2 separate regions of the Homo sapiens genome follow, and region 2 is linked to region 1. A link means that fine-mapping ties the variant in region 1 to the expression of a gene that starts in the linked region. Tissue or cell type: aorta. Region 1 holds a variant in brackets; the other region holds the start of a gene. All regions are shown on one strand. Distances are between the middles of the regions.

Region 1 (8,102 bases):
CAAAGTTGGCCGTGGAATGATGGCTGGGAACTTGGATTTGGGGATGGTTGCCACCATTTCCAGAACTGATAAGAGTGGCTCACTGTGTCTAAAGCATTTGTACAAAGAGTAGGTTCATGTTAACCACCTGCTTTACTTCCAGGAGTCTGGAAGTTTGGTGCATGTCAGGCAGAGGGGGCCCATGTATCCAGCCAGCAGTAAAAACCCTGGACAATGAGTCTCAGTGGCCTTCCCTGATAGATGTGCTGTCATAGCACATTGCTGGAAGAATCAAGTGAGTCCCATGCAACTCCACTTGGAGAGGACCCTTAGAAGCTTGCACCCAGTTTTCTCTGGACTTTGCCCTCGTGCCTTTTCCCTTTGATAATTTTGCTTTGCATCCTTAACTGTCATAAGTTATAGCCATGAGGGTGACCACATGTCAAGTCCTGTGAGTCTCCTGGTGAATCATTAAACCTGGGGTGGTCTTGGGACCCTGAACACACCCTTTCTCCTTCTCTGGTGCCTCTTTCTTCTTCTTTTTATTCAACAATATCTTGGTTATCCTCATATTTTTATTCATTTTTATGACTCTTACAATTCTCGAGGATTCAGTTGACATCTCATTGCATTTGCCAATAAATCTGGGGGTGGAAAGGGATCAATATCTATGTCTGTGTCAAATATTGTGTCTTCATTCTCAGTACCAGCCTCATCATCCTGAGCTCTTCCCTGTGCCTCTGGATCATGGAGCCCGAAAACTACATTTCCCAGACTCTGTTGTTCATGGGCCCAGTGAGAGTCCATCATGCGAGGCACTGGCATGAGGTTGGAAGGAGGAAGTGAAGGCCTATTTCTTCTCTCTGGGACTCTGTGTGTATGGCAAAGCACAGACAAGGAATTTTGACCACAACTTTGAGCATCCTTTTGAGAAGCACTCACACTGGGCTCCAGCATCTGCCCTGTGATCCCAGAACCCTCAGAATTCCTGACCGTGCCCTTCCTGGGTTTTGCTCCCTCAACTTTCCAAAGACTATGAAAACCTCCAATTCTGTATCGTGTCTCTTCATCCTTAGAGTTCCCAGAATATTTTTTCTTTCCCTGGCCAGATCTTAACTAATATTGTTAAATCAAGTTTAGACTAAAGCTGCCTCCTTATACATTTTACGTTCAGTCTAAAGTTGTATCTGTACATAATAAACTGCAACTGAATTGGATGTGTAAACAAACTAACCTACTCTTGCGCCAGTCACTGTGTTTGGGCGAATTAAAGACAGCCAAATGTTCAAACTTTTCAAATAAGGCAAATGCCGAGCTATAATCCATCTAGCTCTTTCTGTGCCTCAATTCTATTGTCTGTAGGTCACTTTCCTTTTTCTGACCATAAATGTTCTTCCACCACATGGCTGTGCTGGAGTCTCTGAGCCTACTCTGGTTCAGAAGTTTGCCTGATTTGCAAATCATTCTTTGTTCAACTAAACTCTTTTAATTTTAACTTGTCTATGGTTTTGCTTTTAACAATATAACACCAGCTGGGCACAGTGGCTCATGCATGTAATCCCAGCACTTTGAGAAGCTGAGGTGGGTGGATCACTTGAGGTCAGGAGTTCGAGACCAGCCTGGCCAACATGACGAAACCCCGTCTGTAGTAAAAATACAAAAATTAGTTGGGCATGGTGGCACCCACTTGGAATTCCAGCTACCTGGGAGGCTGAGGCAGGAGAATTGCTTAAACTCAGGAGGTGGAGGTTGCAGTGACCAAGATCCCAACATTGCACCCCAGCCTGGGTGACAAGAGTGAGACTCCATCTCAAAAACAAAAACAAAAACAAAAAACAATATAATACCACTCTGGTTCTTCCTTGCTCCATCACTTCATTTATTTAGGTCTTTTTTATATCCTTGATAGTTTTATAAATTTCTCTGTAAAGTTCCCCAGCAGAATTGAGCTCCCATTGTCCACAGCAGCATTCGTGGTAACTGTCATAACAGTCTGAATGTTTGTATCTTTGCAAATTCCTGTGTAGAAAGCTAATCACCAATATTATAGTATTAGAGGGCAGGGTCTCTGGGAGATGATTAGGTCATGGGGGTGGAGACCTCATGACTGGGACAAATGAGGCCCACAGAGCTCCCTTGCCCCTTCCACAATGTGAAGATGCAGCAAGAAGGCCTCCTCTAGAAACCATAAGAAGGCCTCCTCTAGAAACCATAAGAAGGCCTCATCTAGAAACCATAAGAAGGCCTCATCTAGAAACCATAAGAAGGCCTCATCTGGAAACTATAAAGCAGGCTTCTCGAGACACCAAATCTGCAGTGCTTTGGTCTTGGACTTGCCAGCCTCCAGAACTGTAAGAGATAAATATCTGTTGTTTATAAGCCACCCAGTTTATAGTATTTTGTTATAGCTGCGTGAATGGACTAAGACAATAGCAAACCCTCACACTGGTTTCTTTTCCTGCTTTCCTGTCTCATTTGCCTTGTTCCCTTACTCCTGCTTCCTGGGATCATCTTCCTTAACAAGCCACGTGTTTAAGTCCATTCTCACACTGCTATAAAGAAATACCTGAGACAGCCATTTATAAGGAAAAAAGTTTATTTGGCTCAGAGTTCCACGGGCTGTACAGGAAGCACGACTCTGGCATCTGCTCAGCTTCTGGGGAGGTCTCAGAAAGCTTACAATCATGGCGGAAGGCAAACGGGGAGTGAAGCATCTCACATGGCAGGAGCAGGAGCAAGAGAGAGAGGGAGAAGGTGCTACACACTTTTAAACAACCAGATCTTGTGATGACTCACTCACTATCATAAGAACAGCACCAAGGGGACGGCGCTAAGCCATTCATGAAGGATCCACCCCCATGATCCAGTCACCTCCCACTGGGCCCCACTTCCAACTTTGGGGATTAGAATTTGACATGAAATTTTGGTGGGGACACAGATCGAAAACGTATCACTACTTATACCTAAATCCCTGTCTTAGCTTGAAAGAAACCCACACTAAAATATGCATTTACTCAGAAGCCATAACAGCAATAGCTACTATTGCTGGATATTTACCATATGCTGGGCATGTGGTTATGCTGAACAAACACTATCTCCTTTAATTCTCCCAGAATTCCCATGGTGCACTTACTTTATGAACAAGGAAACGAAACACAGAGTTGAAATAACTTGCTTGAAGTCAGAAAGCAAGGACCTGGCAGAGTCTGGGTTCTAACCCGGGACTCTCCAACTCCACATTTTTGAACTTGCCCCACCCCTATTCTGATGTCAAAGTCCAGATCCTTCCATGAGTGTGTTGTGTGACTTTGGTTCCATCATTTTAAATCTCTGAACTCACCTGGGTCTGAATTAGATGATCTCAAAATCTCTCTCTAGCATTAGCAGATGATAGCCCCATGACTCCAGGATGCAGATCACCTCCCGAGTGTCCCTTCCTCAGTGGTTTGCATGGAACTAAGTACATAGTTCCACCTCCAGTTCTACAGCCCTTGCAGATCCCCTACACCATGGCTGTCTCACTGATAAAGGCCAGAGCCCAAGTCTGGAAATCCACAATCCACGCAGAAAGATGGAAGGAGCCTGGGAAGAGGGAATGAGCTCCCTCCGTGAGGCCCAGGGTCAAGAGGAGCCCCTTACTGTTCCAGCCCCCACAAGGGATGGCTTTATGCTTCCTGCAGAGGGTAGCCTTGCAATGTGCATAAATTAAGCACGGTTCAGTCTTTATTGCCACGCAAAGCCTTGGGAGGACTGTTTTATATGTCTCTGTTCTCATGGCGTTAGCATCATATAGGCTGAAATTAATTCCACCAGACGGGCTGCTCACAAGCAGAGCCAAGAATTTCCTGGGAAGGAGTTAGGTCTGACTTTGGCAGCCGCTGTGTGCAGTGATAAAGGC[G/C]TCTCAGACGGTCTCACACAGCTGGGGCATCCAAGGGTATTATATTCTTTGGCCCTCGAGGGCTATTTCTCCCTCTTCCAGAAAACTGGGTGTGGAGTATGGGCTTGGAGTCAAGGCTGATCACAGATGGGAAATAGACCCTGGCATTCTCCCTCATCCCTGGATCATTTGATCGATGAGGCTAGGGAATCCCAAACAGGCCAGCCATCGTCCCTGTCTCAGAGCGCCGGAGCCATTGGGCCTGACTTCTGGGCTGGCTCACCTGCCCTGAAACCAGACTATTACCCACAGGAGATGGTTGCCTGAGCCCTGTGGCCTTGCTTCTGCCTTGAGTTCTGTTGGTCCTTTGTTTTGCAAAGAACTTCTAATATGGTGTCCAATTTGAGGTACCCCAGAGGCCGGGAAAGTAGGGGAGGTGATATTATTAGGCATGCTAATAATCATTATGATAATCACCACTATTTACCAAGTATTTCCCTCTGTACCAGCCCCCTTGGAAGCACTTTACACACATGAACACATTGCTTTGCAGAGAGGCCCATAGAGGAGAATGAAATGACCGAGGGCAGAGACACTCCCAGGGAATCTGCTCTGTGCCAGCCTCCTCCCCAGAAATTTCACAATCCAGAACTGTTGCAAAGCTTGCAGCTTGCCAAACATATTGTGTTAATCTCCATCCCTTTGCTTATGCTCTTCCATTTATGTGTCTAGCATTCCCTGGAAAATGCCTATTCATCCCTCAAAACCCAGCTCAGGATGCGTTTCCTTCTGCAAGCCGTGTTGTATCTCCCCAGGCTGATTGCATCTCCATTCAACCAGCACGTATTGGGAAGATTTCAAAAGGAATAAAGAACTCTTGTCTGCACGGGAGCTTAGTTTAGTGGCTGCTGAGTCCAGTCCCTCTTCAGAGCCACTCCCCTCCCTGACTGTCCCAGCCATCTTTCTCACCCTCCAGATTCCTGTTGGGTTTGGCCAAGGGGCGACATCAGCAGGAGATCTGAGGGCGGGAGAAGAGTGGGAATGGGTGTTGGTTCCCCTAACTCCCTCTCTGTGTGGTGTATGCACGTGTCTTTTGTGTTCTGTATTCAGATTCTTTGACGTCTGAGGCCTTGCTAATCCTGGAGGGACTGCCCCTCCCAGGGCTGGCCAATCTAGAAATGGTCAACAATTCGCTCAAGAGTGTGCTTTTCAAACGCCAACCAACTGATCCAGAGCCCACACCCTCCACCTCCTCCCCTATGGGGCTGTCACACTCCACCTGCCCTGATCATCCCAGGGCTGGAAACCAGACAATGCAGGGCAGCAACTCTGAGCCCCAGATCAGCTAAAATTATTCAAACCAGCAATCCTAAGCCTGCCTGCCCTGCCTCTTTCATTCCTTCCAATCAAAACCTCAATGGAGGTTCTTGCCTACTGTGTCTCCCCTCCCTGTCTCCTGACCCACCTACGTGTTTCCCCAGTGGCTCTTCATAGCATGGTGGGCCCTTTCTTATTGGGAACTCTAAGGGACAAATGATCTTTTCAGTGTCAGTCCTCTCCCAATCTGCTGGCCTTATCATACCGAAATAATATTCATATGGCCAGGCGTGGTGGCTCAGGCCTGTAATCCCAGCACTTTGGGAGGCTAAGGTGGACGGATCACCTGAGGTCGGGAGTTTGAGACCAGCCTGACCAACATGGAGAAACCCCATCTCTATTAAAAATACAAAATTAGCTGGGCGTGGTGGCACATGCCTGTAATCCCAACTACCTGGGAGGCTGAGGCAGGAGAATCGCTTGAACTCGGGAGGCGGAGGTTGCGGTGAGCCAAGATCACATCTTTGCCCTCCAGCCTGGGCAACAAGAGCAAAACTCCGTCTAATAATAATAATAATAATAATAATACATACATACATACATACATGAACACATGAGGTTGCTTAGGACGGGCTGCTTCTGTCTGCTAGAGCCCCACTGCTCTGGCCCGTTGCTCCCATCTTGTGTTTCTGTCTCCGTTCCAGAGACCACCCCCTCACTCCCCATCGGGCCTAGGAGCAGTGACACTACCCCCTGCCCTTAGCCCCTGGGTTCTACACTGTCTCTTGCTGGTTACCCAAACCTCGTTCACAACTTGGTGAGTAGTCTTTGTATTAAAGTCTTTGTATTAAAGTATTTGTATTAAACAGTTTGAGAGTCTCTGTTTCTTGGTGGGGATGGAGCCATGAGCAGACCAGTTGAACACCCTCCTCTCCATCTATCCAACCGCCTTCACTTGCTTGTCTCGAAATCTGCCTCTGGCAGGACTCTTGAGTCCAGCCTCTGCTTCCCACATCTTGGTGTCCCTGCACAGCAAAGCAATCCCCAACCTGCAGGGAGCTGAGACAAGCAGCAGGATGGAAGGACAGCATTTGGTGGTTGGTCCAATGGAGGGATTGACGGAGGAGTCACAGAGGATGCCCAGGTCTCCAGTGTCACCAGTGGTGGGGCCAGACAGAGAATAGGCTTGTGGGGGAAAGAGATGAATTCATTCATGCTGTACAGAGCTGGAGGGGCCTGTGGCATCCACATGGCCAGTGAACCACGTAAGAGGGGGTCATGGTGTGGAGAGACCCCCCAGGAACCATGCAGAGAGGAATGGGAGTGGGTCCAGGGGAGCCGGGCTGGCATGTGGAAGCAGCAAGAAGCCACTGCTGGGGTGAAAAGCAGAGAAAGGAGAGGAGAGGGCAGAGCCCAAGGACCAGGCAAGGCAGGCTCTCATGGGGAAGTCCCAGGGACGTGGGCTGAGAGGGACCTTTGCATTTGCCCACTGAAACATCATGCGGGTCTGTGAGTTTTGCGGCAAGGAGGAGGGGGCAAAGGTGTGTTTGAGCAGGCGAGGATGACCATGGAAGGTGCGTGAGTCCTGACATGGGTGTGCTCAGAGGATAGCCTCGGATACGCGCAGGTGCGTGAGAAACTGTTGAAGGAAAGCGAACACGGGCAGGAGGGGTGTTGGGGGCTAAACTGTGTCCCCCTCACCCACATTCACATGTGGAAGCCCTGAAACCCCATACTTCAGAGTGTGATTGTCATTGGAGATAGGGCCTTTAGGGAGGTGATTAAGGTGAAATGAGACCATCAGAGTGGGGCCCCAATCTAGTACAGTTGGTGTCCTCATAAGGAGGGGAAGAGACACCAGAGCCCTCTCCCCTCGAGCATCCACACAGGAAAGACTGTGTGAGGACACAGCAAGAAGGTGGCTGTCTACAAGCCAGGTAGAGAGGCCTTACCAGGAACCAACCCTGTTGCACCTTTATCCTGGACTTCCAGCCTGCCGAACTGTGAGAAAAGAAACTCCTGTTCTTTAAGCTGCCTGGTCTGTAGTGTTCTGTTAGAGCAGCCTGAGCTGACTAATACAACAGGTATGGCCACCTGGCCCAGGTGGGGCAGGTGGGGGAAGGACAGGAAATGGAGACAGCTGAAGGACGGGCAAAGTTGAGTGGCTGAAAGTGTAGGGAACAGCATTTCATGCAGAGGGAATTGCATGTCCAAAGCCTGGCATGCAGCAAGCATGGCTCATTGGAATAATCAAAAAACAGGTCATTTTTACAGTAGGATTTGCCTGTGTGTGTGTGTGTGTGTGTGTGTGTGTGTGTGTCTGTGTCTGTGCTTAGCTTTTCCTTATGTTTTCTTTCTTATGGAGCCTCATATGCAGAGGGTTGTGGTGATCATATTCTTATTTCCTGACCTCATCCCCATCTAGTAGGAGAAAGCCTTTATTTTCTCTGATTTCTTCCCTCTTAGCCCCATATCCCAGCTCCGTTCGTCCCATAGTCAACCGTTCTACAGTTTTGACGTGTACTTTTCAATTATAAAATATGTGCTGCTATTTGTATGGATATATATATTTTTGTAGGACGTGTTGGGTCCTATATCTCAATTTCTCCCTTTCTTCTTTCTTTCCTCCTGTCCTTTCTTCCTTCTCCTTCCTTCCTTCTTTCTTTCTTCCTTCTCAGCCTTGTGTGAGGTCTTAAGATCCATCATGTTGCTGTGAAGTGGTGGTGAAATCTGTCACTTATACGCCAGGGCATTGCATCCCCTCCATCTTCCCTGTGATGGACACACAGGGTCTTTTCCTCTTCTTCTCCTAGGGTGGAGATTTGCAGAGTGTCTGATGAAGGAGGGAGTGAGACAGGAGGCCAGGAACCCCAGGGATGGCAGGATGGGGAGGGTCTAGTTCAGGACAAGGGAGAAGAAGGAGGTCCTA
Region 2 (8,102 bases), 120 kb before region 1:
GAAGTCAGCCTCCAGGCTCTTCCAACCGGTGCAGCAATACCCAGATAGGGATAACCGTCTTTAGGACGGGGTCCTTCTAAAAATTAATCTTTGCACGGGAGTGGTGTATACTTAGCAACACCACCATCCCTGCCTCCATCCCCCCAACCCCCGCAAAATTTTGGGGGAAAAAAAAAACCAGCTAAACCCACCACCAGTTTAGTTGCCCAGAAAGTAGACGAAGGATAATCCATCTTCAGGATCCGAAATGCAGAGGCCCTCTACTTGGGGGCGGGGAGTGCTTTAGGATGCCTGAAAATGAGGGGAGATGGAGCGAGAGGGGAGGGGAGAGAAGTCTAGAGGATGGAAGCGGAGCGCCAGTCCCCGAGCTTTATCTGCTGGGGCCAGCCCTGCCCTTGCCAGGCATGAATTACTGCCCGGCTTTCTCGGCTGCAGCGGCAGCGCAGAGAAATGCCGGGGGTACAAACGCCTCGAGGTTAGAGCTGGCGGCGAGATAACAGGCTCAGCCCCAGGGCCTGCCTGCTCGCTGAACCCCTGGGCCGGGAAATCGGTAAAGTCCTAGACAAAAAATAACTCAGAGAAGTCTCCCTCTCACTGCCCCTGTAACTCGTGGCTTTCCTCCCGCGGGAACAAACAACGCCCTGGGAAACAGGCAGACATTTTATTTCTTTTATCTGACTCCTTTCTCTTGAGACTGCCGGCACCTTTCTTTCTCTCGCAATCCAGGGGCAGAGCAATGGGAAAGCCCCGCGCTTTTCTGACACGGAATTGAGTCTGAACCCCCTTCTCTGCCGATGCACTCTTCTCGCCTAGCAACGTTTACACGCGGTTAACCTGCCGCGCGGGGCGACAGCAGACACGAACCCAGGCCGAACCTATAAAGAAGACACCGTGGCGTTCAGACCCGGCTCGGGAAGCCGAGGGGCTGGCTGCGGGGCCGGTGCTGCGGGGCCAGGCGATTTGCTCCCCGGAGGCAGGGGCGCGACTTCAAGGGCCCGTGCGCCGGGTGCAGCCTTTGATCCGGCCGCCGCTGGCGCCTTAAAACAACATCCTAGTCTGCCTATTAGGCGCGCTGAGGAATCGTGACACATTGTTTATCCCCGCAATTAGCGATGCGGCCCTTTTCAGGCCGCCCGCCCCCGGGCCCCCCGCCCCCCCCCCCCCCCCCGCGGCGGAGTCCAGGCCTTGCTGCGCTCCTCAACTGCGACCGCCGCAAGTTCCACACTAGCCCCCGCTGCACCATGCGGCTTCGCTCTCTGAGTTCAAGCCCCCGCTCAGCCCTAAAGCAGGGGTTCTTAACTGGAGGACTCCACTTGGGACCAGAGCCCCCGAAGTTGTCTGCCCCGTTGCTTGTAATGTGTTTTTGTAGGTGTGCATTTTTCTAGGGAAGAAGTTCTTGGCTGTATCAGATTCTTAAAGAGACCTGGGAGCAAAACATTTGCAGAAGGAGGGCGAGGGCGGAACTAAGCAAAGACTCGAAAAGGCACACTGCTCGCTTTTTAAATGGCCCCAAAAGCAGATAGGCCTCTGTTTCCTCTCCCCCTTTAACCTGGCCACAAAGGGAGATTCTGGCTGGGTGCGGAGGGGGTTGTTCTGACGAGAGTTTGATTAGAACGGGAGCAATAGAAGTTCGCCGTCCTGGAATCGCTTGAACCTGGGAGGCGGAGGTTGGAGTGAACTGAGATCGCGCCATTGCACTCCAGCCTGGGCGACAAGAGCAAAACTCCGTCTCAAAGAAGAGGAAGAGGAAGAAGAAGGAGGAGGAGGAGGAGGAGATGAGGAGGAGAGGAGGAAGAGGAGGATGAGGAGGAGGAGAAAAGAGGAAGAAAAAGAGGAAGAGGAAGAAGAAGAAGAAGAGGAAGAAGAGGAAGATGCTGTTGTTCGCTGTCCTGGCTGGGCTACCAGCAAGGTATTTGCCCTACAGCCTTGCTCAGCCTCAGCGAGCTGAGCTTCAAAATTGGGTCTTAAGGTCTTCTATCCTTGTACCCTCTCGGGCAAACCTCCGGAGGCCCCGGTGCACCGCGCGTCCAGCCGGCCCAACTCGAGCTAGAAGCCCCAACCACTGCCCAGTGCCTGAGTTGCAGTCTTGGGTCCTTTAGAAACCTGGAGATGTGCGTAAAATTCAGATGCCGGTATTCCCGAACTTCCCCAGGCCTCAGCATATCTCGGCGGCCTGTGGACAGATGGGAGGCTACCAATCGCTCCGGCGTCCGCAGCCCGACCCCTGCCGCCAGACCCCGGACGTCTTCCGGATAATAAAGTTCCCGCTCTAATTCATTTTCCCTAATCTGGACGCCCCTAATCTACAGCTTTTATTGCGCCCAGTTAAAAGTCGAGGGAATTCGCTGTCCCTCCGCGCTCGGATAATTACCCCTAAATGGCCACGGCAGCCCCTTGTGTTTCCTGGAGATTAGAACCCCGCAGTCATCAATGGCAGGGCCGAGTGAGCCGCCAATCACCTCCGCTCACTCCCTGAGAGCCGCTGGCCTGGGCCGCAGGAGGAGAGGCCATAAAGCGACAGGCGCAGAAAATGGCCAAGCCCCGACCCCGCTTCAGGCAGATCTTGCATCTCCCCTGACCCCAACTCATTTTTTCTGTCTTTATTATTATTATTATTATTAACAGCAAACATTAAATCACGTTTTCTCCGAAATTGGCAAAAGAAGAGTTCTCAAGTCCCACACTAGAGTCCACCTCCAGGAACTTTCCTCTTTTCCCAGCCCCCTCCCCCAAATGTGCCTCTCCCCTCCAGGATCAGCGGCCCAGAGATAGGGACATGTCATTGTTTCCGAGGACGCGTTGTTTGAGGTCACCTTAAGGCCAGATCGGTGTTTCATTGACGATTCTGTTGGTTTTATTTCAGTAAGTTCTATATCAAAAGGATCTGGCAGCTCCTTTCCCCGCCCGGGCGCTATAGGTGTTGTGACCCTTGGGACAGAAGTTCAGAGCGAGGGTGGGGGGGGGGGAATACACATCGTGTATGAAAACCGACTGCAGATTCTAGATAATCTTACGTATTCTCACATCCTTGGCACTACAGGAAGCTAGCTTCTTCCCGCAAGGTTTACTCCAGCTCTAAGTTAGAGACAAAGGCCCACTTTTACCTCGAGGTAAAGTTTACAAGATTTCAGAACAGGAAGAAAATGAAGGTTTGGTTTTGTTTCGTTTCTTGAAAAGAAGTTAATAGTATGTCTTTCTCCTAGGATAAATAGCCATGCGTATTTTAAAAACTATATATAAAAGGAATGTGTAAGAAATAACCTCAACTCAAATTATTGTGGTAGAAGAAGAGGGGGGGTCAGACAGTGGAGGGGGGCACAGGGAAACCCAGCCACAGACTAAAGAGAAAGGTAAAAGAAGCAGTAGAGGAGAGAAACAAGGACGGGGAAAAAAAGAGGAGCGGAAAAGAGGGCTGAGGAGGGGAGGGGAGGGGAGGAGAGGAGGGCAGAAGAGAAGGAACGAGAACAAGGGAAAATCCCCCGGGAACACAGAAAGATAGAGACCCAGGGGACTCCCGCAGAGAGGGCCTCTTGGGCTTCAGCGCAGAGGAAAGTTTCCCGGGCACCCCCTCTCCTCCCCTGCCCTCCGCCGCCTGGGCCCTGCCCTGCGTGCCCCCAGGCCCAGCGCGCCTCCGGGCGAGTCCCCAGGAGCGCGGCCCAATGGATCGCTCCGGGCCCGCCCCCTCGCGCGCTGATTGGCCGCCGCCCCGCTGGCCTCGCCTTATTAGCAAGTTCTCTGGGGAGCCGCGGTAGGGCCCGGAGCCGGCGAGTGCTCCCGGGAACTCTGCCTGCGCGGCGGCAGCGACCGGAGGCCAGGCCCAGCACGCCGGAGCTGGCCTGCTGGGGAGGGGCGGGAGGCGCGCGCGGGAGGGTCCGCCCGGCCAGGGCCCCGGGCGCTCGCAGAGGCCGGCCGCGCTCCCAGCCCGCCCGGAGCCCATGCCCGGCGGCTGGCCAGTGCTGCGGCAGAAGGGGGGGCCCGGCTCTGCATGGCCCCGGCTGCTGACATGACTTCTTTGCCACTCGGTGTCAAAGTGGAGGACTCCGCCTTCGGCAAGCCGGCGGGGGGAGGCGCGGGCCAGGCCCCCAGCGCCGCCGCGGCCACGGCAGCCGCCATGGGCGCGGACGAGGAGGGGGCCAAGCCCAAAGTGTCCCCTTCGCTCCTGCCCTTCAGCGTGGAGGCGCTCATGGCCGACCACAGGAAGCCGGGGGCCAAGGAGAGCGCCCTGGCGCCCTCCGAGGGCGTGCAGGCGGCGGGTGGCTCGGCGCAGCCACTGGGCGTCCCGCCGGGGTCGCTGGGAGCCCCGGACGCGCCCTCTTCGCCGCGGCCGCTCGGCCATTTCTCGGTGGGGGGACTCCTCAAGCTGCCAGAAGATGCGCTCGTCAAAGCCGAGAGCCCCGAGAAGCCCGAGAGGACCCCGTGGATGCAGAGCCCCCGCTTCTCCCCGCCGCCGGCCAGTGAGTAGCCAGAACCCAGGCGCAGAGGGAGGGGGCCGGGTGGGGGCCGGGTGGGGTGTGGGACCCGAGGGCTCCTGGTGGCCTCCGGCGCCTGCGTACCTGCAGCCGGTGCTAGGGAGCCGTGGGCTGCAAGGCCGGGTCTTGCGCCTCCCTCCACTCCCACCCAGGAAGAAGGTTCCAGACCTCCTCGCCTTGGCCCAGAGACGCTGCGGGTGGGAGTTAACGGATAGGACACCGATGTCTGGGCACCCTGTCCTCCTGCCCCCACCAAACGACCTCAGGGGTCCATGATCCCTCATCTGATCCCAAACTCTGTTTCATCGGCTTCACCCCAGCGGATGAATGTGTGTGGTGCGGTATCTTCCCTGCACCCGGAGTTTCACTTTCTCGCAGTAGGAGCTGGTGTCCCCCAGCCCCTCTTCCCTTTCAAGTACCTCTTTGCCTAGAGGTTCCGAAGCTCCTACAGAATTCTACCTCCCCATGCCCTTTGAGTTTGAGGCAGATAGTTGGTGCTTTGGGCGGATGGATGATTCAGGGGTGGGGACATTCAGGTTCCAGTGGAGGGGGCGGGGCACCAAGTCAATTAGGGGAAGGCGCCCCCGCTAATCCTATGGGAAGCTCCCAAACGTCTAGGACTGAGCCATTAAAGTGGACTCCAGGTGCCCAAGGCGGTTCGCTCCAAGGCCTCACGGCCCCCTGGCTGCTCTACTCAGAGAACACGCTCGGAGATATTTCAGGAGCACGGGAAATTCCCAAGTTTTCCTCGTTTCCTCCGATTATTTTGCTCGGCATAATAGCAGCCAGATTTCAATGGCGTGATGCTGAGGAATGATTTTTATCTGGGGATTAAACGTCTTTGAAAGGCCAGTCCCTCCCTAAGCCTAATGGCCGGAGAAGGTGGCCCCGCTCTGGGTTGTCGCCGCTGAAGGGAGTGACGTTTCTCTCGGCGCCCGCCCCTCGGGCGGCCCGGCGGAAAGCTAGTTGGGGGCCAAGCGCTTCCCGGACTCCCGGTGGCCTCCAGCAGGGAAGAAGCGGGGTGTTAACACGAGATTTCGTTTGACTCACATCCTGGTGGTCTGAAAGTCCAAAGGATCGTTGTGTTTTCTTTGTTTTGTTTTGTTTTTTCTGTTTGTTTGTGGTTGTTTTTTAGAGAGGTGTGAAAAAATGCATACTTAGGCAAAACCCGCGTGGTGAAACATCTTCGATTTGAATTCACTTTCTGCCGGGAAAGCTGCTGCATAGGCAAAGTGTCCTTTCCAACGCTTAGGGCCTTGGGCCCCAAGACCCCGAAGTCAAAGCGATCCCGGCTGTGTTGGGATAATTTGTTCCACATTTTATCCGGGGGCAGTCCCCAGCAGACCCCATCCCCGACCTGCACTAGTCCTGCGCTCTGATGCTTCTTCACTGTCCACCCTTGAGGTTTATTTTGAAGCCAAAAGAAAAAGACAGCTGGGCATGTTGATGTCTGCTGACTATGCCACAGGTTGAGGGGAGAGGCGATCTCAACACTCCCCCCGCAACAACATCAACACACACACACACACACACACACAAACGTTTGAGTGGGGCCAGAGGGCCCTGGCGCCAGGGGTGAACGCGATCCAACAGAGGACTGAGACAATCTAAAGAAAAAGCCCATTAGAATAAAGCAGCCCCTCGTTCTCCGCTCCAGATGACACTTTCTGTTTCTAAGAGGGCTGGCCACAGTGCACCCTCCATGATGGTCTGCGCTGCTCCATCTCTGGTCTGCGGGAACTACTCCTAGAATCCCGTAGGAGCGAAGTGTTCCGGGGAAAGTGTAGAATTTGATTTGGATTCTATGCCACAAAACTGCCTAGCCCCACACTGAAGCACTCCGTGGGCACTGATAAATGTTTGGCCAACGCGTAAAACTAAATGTGCCCTTGGGCTGGGCGCAGGGCCTCTTTCTGCATGTTCGTCAACTGTATTAACATCCACCTTTCCTCTGGATGGCCCTGGGAGGAGGCCCGCCATGAAGGCCTTCCTAAGCCGCCGGGCAGCACAAAGGTGATTTCACATCTTCCCAGCTGTTTAGGCCTAAGATGTGGACATCGAGCCTTCAACGTGGGTATTTTTCTCCTGGAATCTTAGTTTCTTCATTTGCAAAAAGTAGACAGGAACTTCTCCCCTGCGGGGTTGCAATGGGAATTGGAGAAAATATATTTCAAGTGCCTTGCGCGATGCCCGGCACCGAGGCACTTGGCGGCACTCAATATCTGGTATTGTTTGGCTATTATTACTACTTCTTGGGCTGATCATGCTCCAATGCTTCTCTCTTAACCCCTTGCTTTTTTTTTCTTTCGGCCCTCAGGGCGGCTGAGCCCCCCAGCCTGCACCCTCCGCAAACACAAGACGAACCGTAAGCCGCGGACGCCCTTCACCACCGCGCAGCTGCTGGCGCTGGAGCGCAAGTTCCGCCAGAAGCAGTACCTGTCCATCGCCGAGCGCGCGGAGTTCTCCAGCTCGCTCAGCCTCACTGAGACGCAGGTGAAGATATGGTTCCAGAACCGCCGCGCCAAGGCAAAGAGACTACAAGAGGCAGAGCTGGAGAAGCTGAAGATGGCCGCCAAGCCCATGCTGCCACCGGCTGCCTTCGGCCTCTCCTTCCCTCTCGGCGGCCCCGCAGCTGTAGCGGCCGCGGCGGGTGCCTCGCTCTACGGTGCCTCTGGCCCCTTCCAGCGCGCCGCGCTGCCTGTGGCGCCCGTGGGACTCTACACGGCCCATGTGGGCTACAGCATGTACCACCTGACATAGAGGGTCCCAGGTCGCCCACCTGTGGGCCAGCCGATTCCTCCAGCCCTGGTGCTGTACCCCCGACGTGCTCCCCTGCTCGGCACCGCCAGCCGCCTTCCCTTTAACCCTCACACTGCTCCAGTTTCACCTCTTTGCTCCCTGAGTTCACTCTCCGAAGTCTGATCCCTGCCAAAAAGTGGCTGGAAGAGTCCCTTAGTACTCTTCTAGCATTTAGATCTACACTCTCGAGTTAAAGATGGGGAAACTGAGGGCAGAGAGGTTAACAGATTTATCTAAGGTCCCCAGCAGAATTGACAGTTGAACAGAGCTAGAGGCCATGTCTCCTGCATAGCTTTTCCCTGTCCTGACACCAGGCAAGAAAAGCGCAGAGAAATCGGTGTCTGACGATTTTGGAAATGAGAACAATCTCAAAAAAAAAAAAAAAAAAAAAAAAAAAAAAAAAAAAGAAAAGAGAAAAAAAAGACTAGCCAGCCAGGAAGATGAATCCTAGCTTCTTCCATTGGAAAATTTAAGACAAGTTCAACAACAAAACATTTGCTCTGGGGGGCAGGGAAAACACAGATGTGTTGCAAAGGTAGGTTGAAGGGACCTCTCTCTTACCAGTACCAGAAACACAATTGTAAAATTAAAAAAAAAAAAAAACTCTTTCTATTTAACAGTACATTTGTGTGGCTCTCAAACATCCCTTTGGAAGGGATTGTGTGTACTATGTAATATACTGTATATTTGAAATTTTATTATCATTTATATTATAGCTATATTTGTTAAATAAATTAATTTTAAGCTACAAAAATTATCTCTTTACTGATTGAGTCTTTTATTTTAATTTTGCTTCTTGCTATCTCTTTATGTGTACAGTTGCTTTTCAGTTTG

Which allele goes with the higher level. Alleles are on the strand shown, and positions count from the first base shown. SD is a standard deviation of normalised expression in the study named.
For the expression in aorta of the gene that starts at base 3,751 in region 2, C is the low allele of the variant in region 1 and G is the other (moderate effect, 0.50 SD a copy in GTEx).

Evidence for each region. PIP is the estimated chance that this variant, and not a neighbour inherited with it, causes the effect.
Region 2: MSX1 starts here. The variant in region 1 is fine-mapped to the expression of MSX1 in aorta (GTEx, PIP above 0.99).

What each region holds. Positions count from the first base shown.
Region 1 is chr4:4,977,129-4,985,230 of GRCh38, forward strand. The region is part of intron 2 of LOC101928306 (a long non-coding RNA gene); the gene reads left to right. Among named protein-coding and RNA genes, the nearest start is that of CYTL1, 38 kb to the right of the region's middle. The variant G/C (reference allele first, on the strand shown) is at 3,878.
Region 2 is chr4:4,855,915-4,864,016 of GRCh38, forward strand. MSX1 (msh homeobox 1) reads left to right here and starts at 3,751. Exons shown (of 2, transcript NM_002448.3): 1 at 3,751-4,454; 2 at 6,787-8,022. The coding sequence starts at 3,986. The coding sequence ends at 7,229. RefSeq lists silencers at 3,573-3,632, 3,653-3,892, 3,903-4,342 and an enhancer at 6,396-7,067.